4 separate regions of the Homo sapiens genome follow, and regions 1, 3 and 4 are each linked to region 2. The links come from fine-mapping of genetic effects on gene expression. A gene starts in region 2. Each other region holds a variant in brackets. All regions are shown on one strand. Distances are between the middles of the regions.

Region 1 (5,000 bases), 290 kb before region 2:
CTGAGACACTTTGCTGAAGTTGCTTATCAGCTTAAGGAGATTTTGGGTGGAGACGATGGGGTTTTCTAAATATACAATCATGTCATCTGCAAACAGGGACAATTTGACTTCCTCTTTTCCTAATTGAATACCCTTTATTTCTTTCTCTTGCCTGATTGCCCTGGCCAGAACTTCCAACACTATGTTGAATAGGAGTGGTGAGAGAGAACATCCTTGTCTTGTGCTGGTTTTCAAAGGGAATGCTTCCAGTTTTTGCCCATTCAGTATGATATTGGCTGTGGATTTGTCATAAATATCTCTTATTATTTTGAGATACGTTCCATCGATACCTAGTTTATTGAGAGTTTTTAGCGTGAAGGGCTGTTGAATTTTGTCGAAGGCCTTTACTGCATCTATTGAGATAATCATGTGGTTTTTGTTGTTGGTTCTGTTTATGTGATGGATTACGTTTATTGATTTGCGTATATTGAACCAGCCTTGCATCCCAGGGATGAAGCTGACTTGATTGTGGTGGATAAGCTTTTTGATGTGCTGCTGGATTCGGTTTGCCAGTATTTTATTGAGGATTTTTGCATCGATGTTCGTCAGGGATATTGGTCTAAAATTCTCTTTTTTTGTTGTGTCTCTGCCAGGCTTTGGTATCAGGATGATGCTGGCCTCCTAAAATGAGTTAGGGAGGATTCCCTCTTTTTCTATTGATTGGAATAGTTTCAGAAGGAATGGTACCAGCTCTTCTTTGTACCTCTGGTAGAATTCAGCTGTGAATCCATCTGGTCCTGGACTTTTTTTGGTTGGTAGGCTATTAATTATTGCGTCAATTTCAGAGCCTGTTATTGTTCTATTCAGAAATTCAACTTCTTCCTGGTTTAGTCTTGGGAGGGTGTATGTGTCAAGGAATTTATCCATTTCTTCTAGATTTTCTAGTTTATTTGCATAGAGGTATAGTATTCTCTGATGGTAGTTTGTATTTCTGTGGGATCAGTGGTGATATCCCCTTTATCATTTTTTATTGCATCTATTTGATTCTTCTCTTTTTTTTTTCTTTATTAGTCTTGCTAGCAGTCTATCAATTTTGTTGATCTTTTCAAAAAGCCAGCTCCTGGATTCACTGATTTTTTGAAGGGTTTTTCGTGTCTCTATCTCCTTCAGTTCTGCTCTGATCTTAGTCATTTCTTCTCTTCTGCTAGTTTTTGAATGTGTTTGTTCTTGCTTCTCTAGTTCTTTTAATTGTGACGGTAGGGTGTCTATTTTAGATCTTTCCTGCTTTCCCTTGTGGGCATTTAGTGCTATAAATTTCCCTCTACACACTGCTTTAAGTGTGTCCCAGAGAGTCCGGTATGTTGTGTCTTTGTTCTCATTGGTTTCAAAGAAAATCTTTATTTCTGCCTTCATGTCATTATTTCCCCAGTAGTCATTCAGGACCAGGTTGTTCAGTTTCCATGTAGTTGAGTGGTTTTGAGTGAGTTTCTTAATCCTGAGTTCTAATTTGATTGCACTGTGGTCTGAGAGACAGTTTTTTGAGATTTCTGTTCTCTTATATTTGCTGAGGAGTGCTTTACTTCCAATTATGTGGTCAATTTTAGAATAAGTGTGATGTGGTGCTGAGAAGAATGTACATTCTGTTAATTTTGGGTGAAGAGGTCTGTAGATGTCTATTAGGTCTGCTTGGTGCAGAGCTGAGTTCAAGTCCTGGATATCCTTGTTAACCTTCTGTCTTGTTGATCTGTCTAATATTGACAGTGGGGTATTAAAATCTCCCATTATTATTGTGTGGGAGTCTAAGTCTCTTTGTAGGTCACTCAGGACTTGCTTTATGAATCTGGGTCCTCCTGTATTGGGTGCATATATATTTAGGATAGTTAGCTCTTCTTGTTGAATTGATCCCTTTACCATTATGTAATGGCCTTCCTTGTCTCTCTTGATCTTTGTTGGTTTAAAGTCTGTTTTATCAGAGACTAGGATGGCAACTCCTGCTTTTTTTTTTTTTTTTTTTTGCTTTCCATTTGCTTGGTAGATCTTCCTCCATCCCTTTATTTTGAGCCTATGTGTGTCTCTGCAGGTGAGATAGGTCTCCTGAATATAGCACACTGATGGGTCTTGACTCTATCCAATTTGCCGGTCTGTGTTTTTTAATTTGGGCATTTGGCCTGTTTACATTTAAGGTTAATATTGTTATGTGTGAATATGATCCATCATTATGATGTTAGCTGGTTATTTTTCCCGTTAATTGATGCAGTTTCTTCATAGCAT[T/C]GATGGTCTTTACAATTTGGCATGTTTTTGCGCTGGCTGGTACTGGTTGTTTATTTCCATGTTTAGTGCTTCCTTCAGGAGCTCTTGTAAGGCAGGCCTGGTGGTGACAAAATCTCTCAGCATTTGCCTGTCTGTAAGGGATTTTATTTCTCCTTCACTTATGAAGCTTAGTTTGGCTGGGTATGAAATTCTGGGTTGAAAATTATTTTAAGAATGTTGAATATCAGCCCCCGCTCTCTTCTGGCTTATAGGGTTTCTCCCGAGTGATCCGCTGTCAGTCTGATGGGCTTCCCTTTGTGGGTAACTGGACCTTTCTCTCTGGCTGCCCTTAACATTTTTTCATTCATTTCAACCTTGGTGAATCTGATAATTATGTGTCTTGGGGTTGCTCTTCTTGAGGAGTATCTTTGTGGTGTTATCTATTTTTCTGAATTTGAATGTTAGCCTGCCTTGCTAGGTTGGGGATGTTCTCCTGGATAATATCCTGAAGAGTGTTTTCCAACTTGGTTGCATTCTCCCGATCACTTTCAGGTACACCTATCAAACGTAGATTTGGTCTTTTCACATAGTCCCATATTTCTCGGAGGCTTTGGTCATTTCTTTTTACTTTTTTTTCTCTAACCTTTTCTTCTCACTTTATTTCATTAATTTGATCTTCAATCACTAATACCCTTTCTTCCATTTGATTGAATTGGCTATTGAAGCTTGTGTATGTGTCACGAAGTTTTCATGCTATGGTTTTCAGCTCCATCAGGTCATTTAAGATCTTCTCTATACTGTTTATTCTAGTTAGCCATTCATCTAACCTTTCTTCAAGGTTTTTAGCTTCCTTGTGGTGGGTTTGAACATGCTCCTTTAGCTCAGAGGAGTTTGTTATTACCAACTTTCTGAAGCCTATTTCTGTCAACTCATCAAAGTCATTCTCCATGCAGCTTTGTTTGATTGGTGGCGAGGAGCTGTGATGGAGAAGAGGTACTCTGGTGTTTAGAATTTTCAGTTTTTCTGCTCTGATTTCTCTCCATCTTTGTGGTTTTAATCTACCTTTGCTCTTTGATGTTGGTGACCTACCAATGGGGTGTAGATGTCCTTTTTGATGTTGATGCTATTCCTTTCTGTTTGTTAGCTTTCATTCTAACAGTCAGGACCCTCAGCTGCAGGTCTGTTGGAGTTTGCTGGAGGTCCACTCCAGACCCTGTTTGCCTTGGTATCACAAGCAGAGGCTGCAGAACAGCAAATATTGCTGCCTGATCCTTCCTCTGGAAGCTTTGTCCCAGAGGGGCATCCACCTATATGAGGTGTCTGTCAGCCCCTACTGGGAGGTGTCTCCCAGTTAGGCTACATAGGGGTCAGGGACCCACTTGAGGAGACAGTCTGTCTGTTCTCAGAGCTCAAACGCTGTGCTGGGAGAACCACTGCTCTCTTCAGAGCTGTCAGACAGGGACATTTAAGTCTGCAGAAGTTGTCTGCTGACTTTTGTTCAGCTATGCCCTGCCCGCAGAGGTGGAGTCTATAGAGGCAGTAGGCCTTGCTGAGCTGCGGCGGGCTCTGCCCAGTTCGAGCTTCCCGGCTGCTTTGTTTACCTACTCAAGCCTCAGCAATGGTGGATGCTCCTCTCCAAGCCAGGCTGCCGCCTTGCAGTTCAATCTCAGACAGCTACACTAGCAGTGAGCAAGGCCCTGTGGGTGTGGGGCCCGCTGAGCCAGAAATGGGAGAGAATCTCCTGGTCTGCCAGTGGCTAAGACCTTGGGAAAAGCGCAGTATTTGGGCAGAAGTGTCCTGTTTTTCCAGGTACAGTCTGTCACGGCTTCCCTTGGCTAGGAAACAGAAATCCTGCAACCCCTTGCACTTCCTGGGTGAGGCAACGCCTCGCCCTGCTTAGGCTTGCCCTACATGGGTTGTGCCCACTGTCCAAGCAGTCCCAATGAGATGAACCAGGTACCTCATTTGGAAATGCAGAAATCACCCATCTTCTGTGTCAATCACGCTGGGAGCTGCAGACCGGAACTGCTCCTATTTGTCCATCTTGGAACCTCCTGAAATATGTTTCTTGAGAGCAGGGACTACAAGATTCAAATTTTAAAGTTTTTAGTATCTTTTTTGGTTTTTAATGTAATGTCTCACAGCACATTCTAGTTCGTCTGCCCTTCTTTATACCTATTAGAAGCAGCTTGTCTATCTACAGGAAATCCTCTGGGATTTTCATTATGATTTGGTATCTGAACCCTAAGATTTCTTTTTAAGAACATTTTAAACTATGAATTCAATTTTGTAAATGGTTATGGGACTACTTAGGTTACCTATTTGAGCTTGAACAGATTTTGGTAATTTGTGATATTTGAGAAATCACTCCATTTCATCAGTTGTTAAATTTTTGTGTGTAGGGTTATTTATAATACTCTCTTATTATCCCTTTAATGTCTGTGGGGCCTACAGTAATATCCCTGCTTTCATTCCTTATACTGCTAATTTTTATCTTTTATTTTTTTTCTTTGTCAGTCTTGCTAGTGGCTTATTAATTTCACTGATCTTTTTAAACACCAGCTTTTGGTTTTATTGATTTTCTCCATTTAAGTTCACTGACTCTTGCCTCTGTCCTCTCCATTCTGCTATTAGTTCATCCACTGAGTTTTAAATTTTGGTTATTGTATGTTAAATGTAAAATTTTTCATTTGGTTCTTTCTATTTTATATGTTCTATTTCTTTGCTGATACATTGTGTTTTAATGTTTGTTTCAAGAGTGTTTATAATTG
Region 2 (5,000 bases):
CTCTGGGGAATACCAGAGGCCAAGTAGATAATGAGGATACACTTCATAATTGATGTAAAATGGCCAGGGGGAGGGGGTGGAAACTATTACAACCTTCCACCACTGTAAACAGGACCAAATGGTAAAGATTTTATTTTTCCACCTGTGTGCTTTGGAAAGGGGTGGGGCACCACCACGTGCCTAGCAACTATCTCAAACTCTTACGGCAAAAAAAGAATGCTTAGTCTACAAAAAAATGAATGTAAAGTTTTTATAAAATTATCTCAGCAACAAAAGGGCACAGAACATGTGAACTTTACGATTGAGAAAAGACAATACAACACCGAGTCACAGGCCTAAAAGGATACTATTAAATATATTAGGGCAGTTCTGTGATAATAATTCTGTAAGATTTGCATAAATAACTCTGGTCTCAAATTTCACTTCAAATATATACTTTCTGAGATCCACACAATGCAAAGTAGTGTTAAGTCAATGAACCAGGGGTTTCATTTCCAACATTCCCAGTAATGGGTTAGAGTGAATTAAGCTCTTATTTGGGAATCTTCTTGATAAAGCAAAATGAGTTAAACTCCTACCCAGGTCAAGCCTTTTAATACTTAAGCCAAGTAGCAATGAGATTAATACAAGTTTATACAAGCTGCTAATAATTGGGGCTCATTGTCCCTTCAGTTTTTACTTCATTTGGTCTCTAAGCAGCCTCTTGAGGGAAGTATTAAAAATGTACAGAATGGGTTCATTCAGTATTCTTTCTTCTACTGAACAAACATGGAGTAGCTAGAGTTGCCAAGTACTAAACTGAGATTATAGATATTCTAGAAAACAAAAATTCACAATTTCTCTGGAGCAACCAAAAAAAGTATCACAAAGTTCATGAGCTGTCACAATTTTGAACTACTGCTTCAGGTCTTCAACCGTCAGGCAAAAGGATGGTCTTTACTGATAATATCCCAACTTAATATTTTCACCAAATTTAACATTTTCATCCCTGAAAATTGCTCCTAAAGCTAACTTTGTGTGAACAGGGAGGGGGAGAGAGAGAGAGCTTGACAAAAGCAAAGTATAGCGTTCAGCACATGCCTCTGTAACGAATGGGCAACTGGTAGGTTTGTACTGTCATAAATCCTAGACTCTAGTCTTCAGACATGCTATGCTAAGATCACACTGTTAACATTCAATAGTTAGGAGAGAAAGCTTACTCCTGGCACATAGTAGGTGCTCAATAAACGATGTTTTTACTATAATGGTGATTATGATTACTGCCAGAGAAACACTGCAACCACAAGCAAACATCAGTCAAGCTTCATGTTAAACAATCAGATGCTGTTAAAAAAAAAATAGGTTCATTAAAAAACTTTTGGACTTCCAGATTGAAGCCAAAACATGTTATCCTTCTCCTCACTCCTCCACTGTGGGCTGCCTTCATCCAATGAAGACCAAGTTTTTAACTATTAAAAATACAAATGTGTCTTTGACAAATAATCCATGGAATGGTTCTTGGTAACCTATTGACCAGGTAAAGGCTGTGATTCTATCTGACATTAGGAGTATTTTTTTCTCTCTGTACAATAGGATATGCCATTGTTATCTTGTTTGCTGAAAGGAAAAAAGACCCAGTGCCCAGATTTACACAATGAAAAGCCTCTTGGATTTAACGGTACTTTGAGAACATACGGGAGGACACTATTTAAATAATTATTTTTCTTCTGTCTTTAAGAAATAAATATTTAGCGACTGCTTTAACCATCTAAACAATTTTTTCCACTTCCTCAAAATCCCACTCTCTGGGAAGATCAGTTGTATGTGCAGAATCATCCTCAGACAGCTGTACTGCACTGGAAACCACGTCCCCTCACGGTGGCTCTGCTGACACTCCGAACTCATGGCCCGGTTCTCTCAATTCTGTCTAGGATGCAGCCAACCCAGAGAAACGTTACAGTGACAAACAACAGGTTCCACTCTGCTCCGTTCCCACATCTCTTAAAACACGAACACTCATTCATTCACAAATCCCTACGCTCGGTTCCTGTGCTGAGACTCCAGCCTGGCTGGTAATCCCAGGTAAAAATCGGAATATGGGGCACTATCTATCCTGGTGCTGCAACTGCACCAGTCACCTACAAGGCACGCAAATCCAGCTCAGTGCTCAGATTTCATTCAACAGGACTGGCCACCGAATGCTCTCAATGGTCCCCACCCCTCTTCCTGCATAAACCAAGCCACAGCCTTCCTGCCCTCAAGGAGGAACAGGCCAGCCCACCTGCTTCCTTCTGCGCTCCCTTCCCCGCCCAGTCCCCCAGGACCAGCTAAGGACGCTTCCAGGACCCCTCCAGGGGCCTTTTTCTGACCACATTTCCTGGGCTCCCATCATCTCCACAAATGAAAAGTAAACTCCTCCTTAGTGACAACCTCTCCAAACCAACCGCCTCACGGTCACCCAACTCCGCCGGAGCCCCCTACCCGTGCGAGCCCCGCCGACGGGGCGGACGGCCCCCACGGCGTGTGCCAGCGCGGGGCATTTACCTTCACGCTGGTGTAGCAGGTCTGAGTCTCGGCCTCGGCGCTGCTGCAGCAGTGGCGCCTCCGGCCCCTGCTGGTGGTCGCGGCGGGGGCTGCGGAACCCGCGCTGCTACCGCTGCCCAGCTCGGTGCGGGCCCTGCGGACGCGGGCTACGCTGGGGGGTCCCGACGCGCGGCTCGGGGGGATGGCGTCGGCGGCGTCGGTCTGGACGAAGAGGCCGGGCAGGGGTGCCGCCGGGCCCTGCGACACGCTGGTGGTCTGGCGGGGCGAGCTGGACTCGTCCGAGTCCCGGCAGTAGATCACGCCGCTCTGCGAGACATGGATGCTGGGGGCGCAGCCCATCCCTCGGCCGGGCTCCCCCGCGCGCCCGCCCGCGCCCGCGGCCGCCGGGACCCAGCGCACCCGCTGCCACCTGCAGTGAGGGGGCGGCCGCGGCGGCGCCCGGACTGCGCGCCCCCCGGCCTGTGTGTCCGCCGCTCCGTCGGGCTGGCCGCGGTGCCCCCCGCCGAGCCTCCGGGGACCGCGCGCGTCACCCCAACTTTCCCTTTTGGGCCATCTTCCTCCCCGAGCGGGGGAGCGCGCATACACAGCGCCCCGCGCGCACCAGCGGCCGCCACCCTCCCCGCCGCGGCGCCCCAAACACGCTCCCCGCGCCTCCGCCTTCCCCTCCTCCCTCGGCGCGGCCCCCGCCGCCGCCCAGCTCGACCTCGCCGGGCTCCCGCACCCGCGGCCCTGGGCCAGGGCGCCCGCCCGCCTGCCCGCCTGCCTGCACCTTCTTTCCCCACTTTCGGTCTGCGCCCGTCCCCTCCCTCCCTCGCTCCCACCCTCCTTCCTCCTCAGGTGCCCCGGCTCCGCGGCCGCAGCCGCCCGGGCCCCACTGCGCCCCTCCGCCCCTCCCGCCGCTCCCGGAGCTCTCCCGACAGGGCAGAGCGTGCCCGCGGCTCGGCTCCGCCGCGGGGCCCCTGTGCGCGGCAGCTGGCACCGCGCCTCGGCGCCCTCCCCTCCTCCTCCGCTGTCCAGAGGCCTCGTCTCTTCTGCACTCATCCCGACGCCGCCCCCAGCGCCCCAGCCCCTCTTCCCCTGAAGGGCTGTGTAAGCCTCTCGCTTTTCACCAACACATTTTCACACATCCCAGAGCTAAACACCAGGAGGCCCCTCCCGAAATGGCAGGGGCCCTACAGCCCAGGCCCACCCACCGCATTTGCTTGCCTCTCAACACACCCGGGAAGTGATGGAGAGACCTCATGGTTCCGTCCTCTTCCCCCAGCCCCACCGCCTACTCCGAAGGCTGAGTTGGATGGTGACCCAGTCTTCAGAAGAAGCCCATTCCATGTCTACTCATCGTTTGGAAGTTTGTGCCAAGGGATGGGAGGCCCTGCGGAGGAAGGCACCCTTGAACACATACGTTCCCCTAAGATCCAAGGCAAGAACAGAAAGAAGCTGTCTGATGGTTCTTGGCTTTCTCCCCCATTTTCACCTCTTCCTTAGGTGTCACTAAATGTTCATGCTGGTTTCTATCCCGTCCAGCCGCCCATGTCAACTGCTGTTCCTCACACTCTGGGCTGGGCAGTCAACAAGGCCTTCCCTCATTCTCCTTGGTGAGGCATGCACAGACTGAGCTGTGCTGGAGGAGAGGAAGAATGCCTTTAGAAGGATGGCTGCTGTTCATCCTTCCCTTGTAAACTCTGAGTTACAGCTGCGAGACACCACTGCCCATTCAGTCACTGGTTCCCGCAGTAATTCCTGCCCGATTTTCACAATGGCACGGGGAGATAAATTAGATGGTCTAAGAAAGGATTTTATCTAGAGTTGCTTATACGGACAAGGGCAGTAACATAGAGGCTTAATGCAAGGCACAAAGAAGTATCCAATTTTAAGGTTTGTTTTTTGTTTTTTTTTCATTCTTATTTTCCTTTTTCTTCCTGGACCACTCTTGGATGTGACTGGATGAAGACTTCAAAAGACAGTTTCTAAATTTCATAGAGAAGCAAGATATCATTCCCAATCCCAAATTCAGTTATACAGGGAGAGTCTAACCTTATTCTTCTACCTTTGCTTCTCTTCTCAGTTTAGCTCTCTTTTTTTGATACAAAAAAACTCCATCTCCAGCTAACCTGGAAAAAGTCTATGCTGTATTTTTTAATGGACAGGCAAATTGCTCATAAAATTTCTGCACAGGTTGGGTCCTCCTAGAAGCAGATTCTGAGATGGTGTTTAGCAGGCAGAGGGAGGCTTTTTAGGAAGTGCTCTTGTAGTCAACATTTGTGGGAGGAAATAAAGGGAGGGAATGGAGGGAGGCAAGCTTGAGCAGAGGGAGAAATTGACCAAGCCTCAGGCATCCCTGCAGGGAGGATTCTGAAGGTGGGATGATGCTTCAGAGTTGTTCTGAGTTGGGGCTGGGTTCTGAGTTGTTCTGGTGGGCCTTTATACCCCAGCATGGACCAGTCTTTACATGCAGGCCACCTCAGCGACCTTGGGCA
Region 3 (5,000 bases), 28 kb after region 2:
CTTTACATAGATTATCTCATTTAATCAGGACAATAACCCTGCAAGGGAAGTATTACTATTCCCATTTGACAGATGAGGAATACTACTGGCAAGCAATGGAGCTGGGATTAGCACCCAGGCAGTCTGCTTCAGAGTTGGTGCTCCTAACCCCTAGGTTTCCCATCTCTAACCCACAGCCACTCGGCTTCACATTACAGTCAATGCCATCAATAAAATTTGCTTGATGTAAGTAGTAACATTGGGCCGCTTTAAATATTACCCAGGGAATTCAGAAAAATAACAGTTTTGGGTTAGGAAATGGCAGGGGGTGGGGGGACAGGAGGAGATGGATGTGAGGTGAAGAGGAAGATGACTCCATAACATGGCTCAGTAACCTACAGGCCCCCTCCAATGAAAACAGCATGACTACATCTCAGGATGTGCTGTCTGACAGAGACAATGTGTTATGGGCTGAATTGTGTTCAACACAATTCTTAGGTTGAAGTCCTAACTCCCAGTACCTCAGAATGTAACTGTATTTGGAGATAGAGTCTTTAAAGAGGAATTAATTTTAAATGAGGTCATTAACATGGCTCCTAATCCAATATGACTGGTGTCTTTGTAAGAAGAGATTAGGGCATAGACACACAGAGGGAAGACCATATGAAGACAGAGGGAAAAGATGACCGTCTACAAGCCAAGAAGAGAGGTCCTCAGAATTAACCAATGCTGCTGATACCTTATAGTTCTGAGGCTTTTAGCCTCCAGAACTATAAAGAAGTCAATCTCGGTTGTGTGAGCTATCAGTCTTTAGTACTTTATTATGGCAGCTCTAGCAAACTAATACAGAGTGCTATGTATTTACCATTTTCTCTTTCTGGACACACTGAAAAGCATTTCCTTGTCTCCACGCATCAGGTTGAGGTCTGTGTGACTAGTTCTTACCAAAAGACTGTAAATACAAGAAATATGCTTCATTTCTGAGCCAAGGCATTTACAAGCAGGTGTTGATTCTCCACTGTCTCTGTTTCCTCCCCTGCCATAGGACCATCAAGACTGCATGTTCTAGATAGTGCAGTTACAAGATGGCAGAGCTCTGATAGCCTGGTGCCCTGAGTGCCTCTGTGGAGCAGGGCACTCTGCTAACCTGCTTTGGACATAAAATGTGAGTGACAAATAAATCTTTATATTTTATTTTTCATTTTTATTTTATTATTTTATTTTTATTTTTATTTTGAAAAATTTAAAGAAGGGTCTCACTATGTTGCCTAAGCTGGTCTTAAACTTCTGGCCTCAAGCAATCCTCCTGCCTCAGCCCCCTAAAGTGCTGGGATTATAGGTGTGAGCCATCATGCCCAGCCTCTTTCTATTTTTTAAGCTACTGAGGTTTCAGGGTTGATTTGTGGCTGCAGCATAGCCTAGCCACTTCTCACACATAAAGCTACCTCAGAAAAGCCAGGGTACCAAAAACAGATATTTTAGGAATTCATGTGATATTAGATAAAATCATACTAAGTTGTTGTTTTTGTAGGCAAAAAATGGTCAAATATGGACAGTTTCATTTGTGTGACCTCTAACTGCACATATTTGCAGACCCTTACGGTTGGAAAAGACCTTGGCAACCAACAAGTCCTACCATCCATAGTTTATAGACAATACTTCTGAGACCCTCTCAGATTAAATGATTTATCAAAACTCCAAAAACATGTTAGTGGAAGAATTGGACCCCAAATCAGAAATTACATTTCATTTAGGGAAGGCAAGTTAGCAGTATGTATTTAAAAGTATATATCTGGCCAGCACGGTGGCTCACACCTGTAATCCCAGTACTTTGGGAGGCTGAAGTGGGAGGATCACTTGAACTTAGGAGTTTGAGACCAGCTGGGGCAACACAGTGAGACTCTGTCTCTACAATAATTAAAAAATTAGCTGGGCATGGTGGCGCACGCCTATAGTCCCAGCTAATCCGGATGCTAAGGCAGGAGGACTGCTTGGATGGGGAGGTCAAGCCTGCAGTGAGCCAATAATGCACTACTCCCCTCCAGCCTGG[A/G]CAACAGAGGGAGATTCTGTTTTTTTTTAAAAAAAAAAAGTATGTATTTAAATAGTAACCATGATCTTTCACATAATAATTCCACCCCTAGGAACAGATTCACCAGAAATATCTAAACAGGTATGCAGAAATATATAAATAAATGGATCCACTGTGTGATCTTTCACAAGTACTGTATGTGACTGTGAAAACTGAGAAATAATCCAAATGCCCATTCACAGGGATTGGTTAAATAAATTACGGTTTACCCATCTGCTCTCAAGCTTACAGAGTTAAAAATAAAGGAGTCAATCTCTTTGCTGACATGAAAAGACACCCAGATCATGTTGATGAAAGCAAGAAAGTCCAAGTAGAAAAAGAAAAGAAAATTATCACTCATAAAAGATTTTTAAATCTCTATGCACTGAGGTGTATAAAGCATCTGACACGTAGTAGGCACTTTTTGCCCTCCCCTTTTCTTCCTTCTTGCATGTCGCTTGGATCATTGTAAATACACCCAGCTGGCTGGTTCAGCTCCACCACCTACTAGCTGTGTCATCTAAGATGAGAAGTCTCAGCTCTCCCATTTGTAAAATTTAAAGAAATAGTAGCGCCCAGGCACAGTGGCTCATGCCTGTAATCCCAGCACTTTGGGAGGCCGAGGCGGGTGGATCATGAGGTCAGGAGTTCGAGACCAGCCTGACCAACATGGTGAAACCCTGTCTCTACTGAAAATACAAAAATTAGCCAAGCCTGGTGGTGCGCACCTGTAGCCCCAACTACTCGGGAGGCTAAGGCAGGAGAACCACTTGAACTTGGGAGGCAGAGGTTGCAGTGAGCCGAGATCAAACCACTGTACTACAGCCTGGACAACAGAGCAAGACTCTGTCTCAAAATAATTAATAATAATAATAATAATAATAATAGCACATCTTCAGAAGGTGTTGATAGGATTACATGATAGTGTTTACATAAAGAGCTTAGTCCAATGCCTAGCGCCTAAGTACTTAAAAAATTTTCACCATTATGTTGATATTCATCTCTGAAAACCTGAAGAAACAAGGTTCTTTGTGGCTTTTTAATCTCTTATAATAATTATCTAGTAAAAAAAATTGTCATCCTGCTTATTTCCCTTCCTAAAGCTAAATTAAAAAGCTAAAGAGCAGTGTTATCAAAAAAGCAAATACATAATATATTGAATTTAAAATGTGTTTATTAACTGATTCTCCATAAATAAAAATAAGATGTGTATATAAAGTAAAAAAAAAAAAAAGCAGTGCTTATCTCAATAAGCTCTGGCAATTAGGCATCCAATATTTAATACAGCTTTTAAAGACAATTTAACTATTTCATTACCAAACTGATAAGCTGCTTTTCTGAGAAGTTGACATTAACTGAGTCATTCCCAGGTAAGTCAATTGTTTATCAGATATGATGTAAGCGGCCTCCATGAGCTCTGCAAGACTGGGCTGTCTTCCACTGAGGGGTTAGTGTGGGGCTTCCCCTCTACTCATGCCTGTAACAGGGAGGTTGTGGCTGGAATCTTTCAAATGCACAGAAAGGATGTCTTCCAGGATTATATAACCAAGCTCAAACTTTACCAGGACTTTCTATGTGAGATCCTTCCCAGTGCATTCTAAGCATTAACTAAACCAGTCAGGCTTACTTCCACCTATCTTTAAGCCTGAATGATTTGTGTAGCCCTATGAACAGATTGGAATTAAAATTCAATTCACCCACTGATCTAGTATCTCTTCCGTCCATAAACGCTCTTTGGAACCAAGTACAATCTGTAGCAAGACTGCAAAGAACTAGTGAGCATTCACAGGCTAAGTCTGGCAGATTACTGCCAGAGTGGAATCCAGAATTAAAGGCTCTGAGCCTTCCTGGCAGCTGAGGCCAGGACAGGTTGTACCTCTTGCCCTGAGTTTCACAACTGGTCAGTGGTACCACTGAGCTTGGAATCCAACTCCCTGGCCTCCAATCCATGCTCTTGCCACTGCTGATGAATTGTCATTCTTCTGTTTTTGCTTCTTGGAAAACCGAACCTCTACAAAGTTAAAATAACTTATTCAAGGTCAAGAGGGCAGTCAAGTAGAACTGGCAATGCGAACTGCTGGGTTATAAAATCCGAGAGGGCGGGTCCTCTGGCCCTCGCCTCCCCTGGGGACCTTGTGTAAATGTTTTCGTTGATTGTCTCCCAACACACAGTTTAGAGGAACTCTCTCTTCTAGGTTAGCACTGCACGTCCAACTTCAGGTTCAGACAGAAGCACTTGTAACTATCAGAGCCAGCATGCCCCCAGCCACCCTGACCTCCCGACCGACCGTCCATGGAAGGCAGCCTGGGCAAATAACCACCACTCAACTGCGGAGGTCTTACAGTCCTAGTAACTCACACCTCGCCGCCAGCAGTGTTTTTCTGGAGCTGGCAACCTGGGGACGGGTAAACTGGTGTCAGATTGAGCCAGAAGCAGAATGGATGGGCACAGCTAGTCTTGAGGGTATAGAGGAGCCTGTGGACGGTTCAAGGCTTCTAGCCAAGCTTTTGTAAAGGCTGCTGCAAGCCTCACCTCTCCCAACAGTCCTTAGGAGCACAGCTACTTTGATCCTGGTAACTAGGTGCGTTTCAGAGGACACTCTGAACGCCTAGCGGAACGCCCCCAAGTTCAGAGTGGCAGCGCCGCCTGCGCAGCTTCCCCCTTGCACTAAGCGTCCCTCCCTACCACAGACTGTTCTCCCGGGCACTTTCCTGCGACCCCGCAGCGTGGGACCCTTCTTTGTACACACGTTCCAGCTCTTCCTTTGCTTTGCTCCACCTCCAAACATCCCTTCCCACAGGGGATGAGGCGGGTGGTTTAGTCCACGCTCCGTCTATTCACCCAGCTAGCGTTGTCCCTAGAACTTAGTGCAAGGGTGAGGGTGGGGATGGTGGTGGGGGTGGGGGTTGGGGTAGGGGTAGGGGTAGGGGTGGGTGCCCCATTGCAGAGTCC
Region 4 (5,000 bases), 340 kb before region 2:
GATTTGAAAGATGGCATTCCCTCCAAAATTCATGTGTTGAAACTTAATCCCCATTATGATGGTATTGAGAGGTGGGGTCTTTTGGGGAAGTGATTAAATCAGGGGGATTCTGCTCTCATGAATGAATTGGTGCCTAGCTGGAGGGAACTAGCTTAGGCCCTTTTTGCCCTTTACATCCCTTCAGCTATTTGAGAACACAGCATTTGTCCCCTCAAGAGGATGCAGCAACAGGGCTCCATCTTGGTTGAAAGTGGAGATGGGGGCCTCACCAGATACCAAATGCTGGTGATTAAATCTTGGACTTCCCATCCTCCAGAGCTGTGAAAAATAAATGTCTGTTCTTTATAAATTACCCAGTTTGAGGTATTTTGTTATAGCAGCAAAAAAGGACTAAGGCATATGACTTGCAAATATTTTCTCCTGAGTGTGTAGTTTTCCTTTTCATCCTCTTTATATGGCTTTCACAGAACAAACATTTCTAATTTCAGGGAGGTCCAATTCATCAGTTTTTCTTTTTATGGATCATGCAGTTGGTGTCAAGTCTGGCAACTACTGGCTTAGCGCCAGATCCTGACAACTTTCTTCCATGTGTTTTGCTGAAAGTCTTATAGGTTTGTTTTACATTTAAGCCTGTGATCCAATTTAAGCTCATTTTTTATATAAAGCATGAAATTTAGATCTAGGGTTTTTTTCCCCATATGGATATGCAATTGTTCCAGCATCATTTGTTGAAAAGGTTATTCCTCCTCCTTTAAATTGGTTTTGCACCTTTGTCAAGTCAGTGTGGCAGACTGTGTGAATCTATTTCTGGGTATCCTGTGCTGCTCCGTTGATTCATGTGTCTACCCCTCTGCCCACACCACACTCTCTTGATTACAGTAATTATATAGCCAGGCTTAATATGGGTAGAGTAGTTTCTCCCATTTCTTTGTCTTTCTTCTCTATCAAGATTGCTCTAGCTATTCAGGGCCTGTGCCTTTTCATATATATTTTAGCATAAGCTTGCCTCGGTCTATGAAAAAAATATTGCTGGGATTTTGATAGGAGTTACACTAAACTATAGACCAATTTGGGGAGAATTGACAGCATTACTAAACTGAGTCTTCCAGTTCATAAACATGATATATCTCTTCATTTATTTAAGTCTTCTTTGACTTTCACAAAATCAGCATTTTGTAATTTGTAGCATATAGATCTTGCACATGTTAAGTAAATGCATAAGTATTTCATTTTCCTTGGAGTTATTGTAAATTGCCCTGTGTTTTTAATGTCAGCTTCCGCATGTTCACTGTTACTATAATTGATTTTTATGTGTCTTTATATTTATTTAAATTACTAATATATTTAGATTTATTTTGACAATTTTATTTAGTGGTTTGTATTTGCCCTACCTTTTCTATGGTCTTTCTTGTCCTCCCCTGCATCAATTGCATTTTTTTTCTCATTCAATTTTTCCCCTACTAGTTAGGAGATTTTATTTTATTTTATTTTATTTTATTTTATTTTATTTTATTTTATTTTATTTTATTTTATTTTATTTTATTTTATTTTATTTTTTGAGACAGAGTCTTGCTCTGTTGCCCAGGCTGGAGTGCAGTGGCACGATCTCGGCTCGCTGCAACCTCCGCCTCCCTAGTTCAAGCGATTCTCATGCCTCTAGCCTCCCAAGTAGCTGGGATTACAGGCTCGTGCCACCACACCCAGTTAGTTTTTGTATTTTTAGTAGAGAAGGGGTTTCACCATGTTGGCCAGGCTGGTCTCAAACTCCTGACCTCAGGTGATCCACCCACCTCGGCCTCCCAAAGTGCTGGTACTACAGTCAACAGCCACCTCGCCCAGGCTTTATTTTTTTATTTTTTGAGTCAGAGTCTCACTCTGTCACCCAGGCTGGAGTGCAGTGGTGCAATCTCAGCTCACTTCAGCCTCTACCTCCTGGGTTCAAGCAATTCTCATTCCTCAGCCTCCCAAGTAGCTGGGATTACAGGTGAGCACCACCACACCAGGCTAATTCTTGTGTTTTTAGTAGCGACAGGGTTTCGCTATGTTGGCCGGGCTGGCCTCAAACTCCTGACCTCAGGTGATCTTCCTGCCTCAGCCTCCCAAAGTGCTGGGATTACAGGCATGAGCCACCACACCCAGCTAGTAAGGAAATTTTATGCTATATTATTTTTACTTTGTTAGTCATTCTAAAATTAGCTTTTGAATATCATTTATCAAAATCTAACATGAATTAATATTTTTGCCCCCTTCTTAAACATACAAAATCCTTAGGACATTTTATTTTATTTTATTCTTTCTTTCTGAAATTTTATTTTATAATTTCAGATTTTATTTTCAATTCACAGGGTACTGTGCAGGATTGTTACGTGAGTACATAGCATGATGCTGAGGTTTCGGGTACAAATGATCCTGTCACCCAGGTAGTGAGCCTAGTACTCAATAGCCTAGTACTTTTCAGCCCTTACTCCCCTCTCTCTCTCCTTCCTCTAGGAGGCCCCAGTGTCTATTGTTCCCGTTTTTATGTCATGTTTACCCAATGCTTAGCTCCCACTTATAAGTGAGAACCTGTGGTATTTGGTTTTCTGTTCCTGCATTAATTTGCTTAGGTAAGGACATGACTTTATTCCTTTATATGGCTGCATAGTATTCCATGGTATACATGTACTATATTTTCTTTATGCAGGCCAACATTGATGGGCATCTAGATTGACTCCATGTCTTTGCTATTATGAGTAGTGCTGTGATGAACATATGAGTACATGTGTCTTTTTGGTAGAATGATTTATTTGTCTTTGGTTATAATTCAGTAATGGGATTTCTGGGTCAAATGGCAGTTCTGTTTTCAGTTTTATGTGAAATCTCCAAACTGCATTCCACAGTGATTAAACTAATTCGTACATTCCCACCAACAGTGTATAAGCATTCTCTTTTCTCCACAGGCTTGCCAGCATCTGTTATTTTTGGCTTTTTAACAATAGCCATTTTGACTAGTGTCAGATGGTATCTCATCATGGATTTGATTTGCATTTCTCTGTTGAGCATTTTCCCATTA[T/C]GTTTGTTGGCCACTTTTTTGTCTTCTTTTGGGAAGTGTCTGTTCATGTCTTTTGCCTATCTTTTAAAGGGAATGTTTGGTTTTTTGCTGGTTGAATTGTTGAAGTTACTTATGGATTCTGGATATTAGACCTTTGTTGGATGAATAGTTTGCAAATATTTTCTCCCATTTTGTAAGTTGTCTATTAAATCTGTTGATCATTTTTTTTGCTGTGCCGAAACTATTTAGTTTAATGAGATCACACTTGTCAATTTTTGTTTATGCTGCAATTACTTTTGAGAATTTAGTCACAAATTCTTTCCCAAGGCCAATGTCCAGAATGGTATTTCCTGGGTTTTCTTTGAGGATTCTTATAGTTTGAGGTCTTAGATTTCAATCTTTAATCCACCTTGAGTTAATTTTTATATATGGTGAAATGTCGAGGTCCTTTTTTTTTCTTCTGGTTATGGCTAGCCAGCTATCTCAGCACCATTTGCTGAATACAGTCCTTTATCCATTGTTTATTTTTGTCAACTTTTTTGAATATCAGATGGTTGCAGGTGTGCAGCTTTATTTCTGGGTTTTCTATTCTGTTTCATTGGTCTATGTGTCTGTTTTTGTACTAGTACCATGCTGTTTTGGTTACTGTAGCCTTATAGAATAATTTGAAGTTGGGTAATGTGATGCCTCCTGCTTCACTCTTTTTGCTTAGGATTGCTATGGATATTTAATTTCAGAAGTTTTTTCTAATTCTGTGAAAAATGACATTGGTAGCTTGATAGGAATAGTGTTGAATTTATAGATTGCTTTGGGCTATGTCCATTTTAATAATATTGATTCTTCCAATCCATGAGCATAGAATGTTTTTTCATTTGTTCGTGTTGTCTATGATTTCTTTCAGCAGCATTTTGTAGTTCTCCTCATAGAGATCTTTCACCTCCTTAACTAGATGTGTACCTAGGTTTGTTTTTTTGGGGGTGTTTTTTTTGGAGCGGCTATTGTAAAATGAGATTATGTTCTTGATTTGGCTCTCAGCTTGAATGCTATTGTTGTATAGAAATGTTACTGATTTGTGTACATTGATTTTGTGTCCTGAAACTTTCCCGGAGGTCATTTATCAGTTTTAGGAGCCTTTTGATAGAGTCTTTAGGGTTTTCTAGGTATATAATCATATCATCAGTGAAGAAAGATAATTTGACTCATTATTTTTCTTTTGTTTTAAATTTCCATAGGTTATTGGGGAACAGGTAATATTTGTTACATGAGTAAGCTCTTTAGTGGTGATTTGTGAGATTTTGGTGCACCCATCACCCAGGCAGTATACACTGCACCCTATTTGTAGTCTTTTATCCTTCACCCCCTTTCCCCCTTTCCCCCTGAGTCCCCAAAGTCCATTGTGTCATTCTTATTCCTTTGCATCCTCATAGCTTAGCTCCCACTATAAGCGAGAACATACGATGTTTGGTTTTCCATTCCTGAGTTACTTCACTTAGAATAATAGTCTCCAATCTCATCCAGAACACTGCAAATGCCATTAATTCATTCCTTTTTATGGCTGAGTAGTATTCCATCGTATATATACATATACCACAGTTTTTTTTATCCACTCATTGACTGATGGGCATTTGGGTTGGTTCCATGATTTTGCAATTGTGAGTTGTGCTGCTATAGACATGCATGTGCAAGTATCTTTTCCATATAATGACTTCTTTTCCTCTAGATAGATACCCAGCAGTGGGATTGCTGGATCAAATGGTAGTTCTACTTTTAGTTCTTTAAGGAATCTCCACACTGTTTTCTATAGTGGTTGTACTAGTTTACATTCCCACCAGCAGCATAGAAATGTTCCCTGTTCACAGCATCCATGCCAACATCTACTATTTTTTGATTCTTTGATTATGGCCATTCTAGCAGAAGTAAGATGGTATCACATTGTGGTTTTGATTTGCATTTCCCTGATCATTAGTGA

Alleles and levels. Positions count from the first base shown, and alleles are read on the strand shown. Sizes are in standard deviations (SD) of each study's normalised expression.
For the expression in lymphoblastoid cells of the gene that starts at base 3,108 in region 2, allele T in region 1 goes with a higher level than allele C (large effect, 0.86 SD a copy in GTEx).
With allele A in place of G in region 3, the expression in lung of the gene that starts at base 3,108 in region 2 is lower (small effect, 0.33 SD a copy in GTEx).
For the expression in cerebellar hemisphere of the gene that starts at base 3,108 in region 2, allele T in region 4 goes with a higher level than allele C (moderate effect, 0.40 SD a copy in GTEx).

The links. PIP is the estimated chance that this variant, and not a neighbour inherited with it, causes the effect. A credible set is the group of variants that fine-mapping cannot tell apart.
Region 1: its variant is the best candidate, but not a certain one, in a credible set for the expression of PDE8B in lymphoblastoid cells (GTEx, PIP 0.74).
Region 3: its variant is the best candidate, but not a certain one, in a credible set for the expression of PDE8B in lung (GTEx, PIP 0.58).
Region 4: its variant is the best candidate, but not a certain one, in a credible set for the expression of PDE8B in cerebellar hemisphere (GTEx, PIP 0.57).

What each region holds. Positions count from the first base shown.
Region 1 is chr5:77,500,185-77,505,184 of GRCh38, reverse strand. It overlaps a transcript of WDR41 not described here. Among named protein-coding and RNA genes, the nearest start is that of WDR41, 10 kb to the right of the region's middle. The variant T/C (reference allele first, on the strand shown) is at 2,251.
Region 2 is chr5:77,208,788-77,213,787 of GRCh38, reverse strand. PDE8B (phosphodiesterase 8B) reads right to left here and starts at 3,108. Exons shown (of 22, transcript NM_003719.5): 1 at 2,524-3,108. The coding sequence starts at 2,862.
Region 3 is chr5:77,181,038-77,186,037 of GRCh38, reverse strand. It overlaps a transcript of PDE8B not described here. Among named protein-coding and RNA genes, the nearest start is that of PDE8B, 27 kb to the left of the region's middle. The variant A/G (reference allele first, on the strand shown) is at 2,030.
Region 4 is chr5:77,548,537-77,553,536 of GRCh38, reverse strand. It overlaps a transcript of WDR41 not described here. Among named protein-coding and RNA genes, the nearest start is that of WDR41, 59 kb to the right of the region's middle. The variant T/C (reference allele first, on the strand shown) is at 3,053.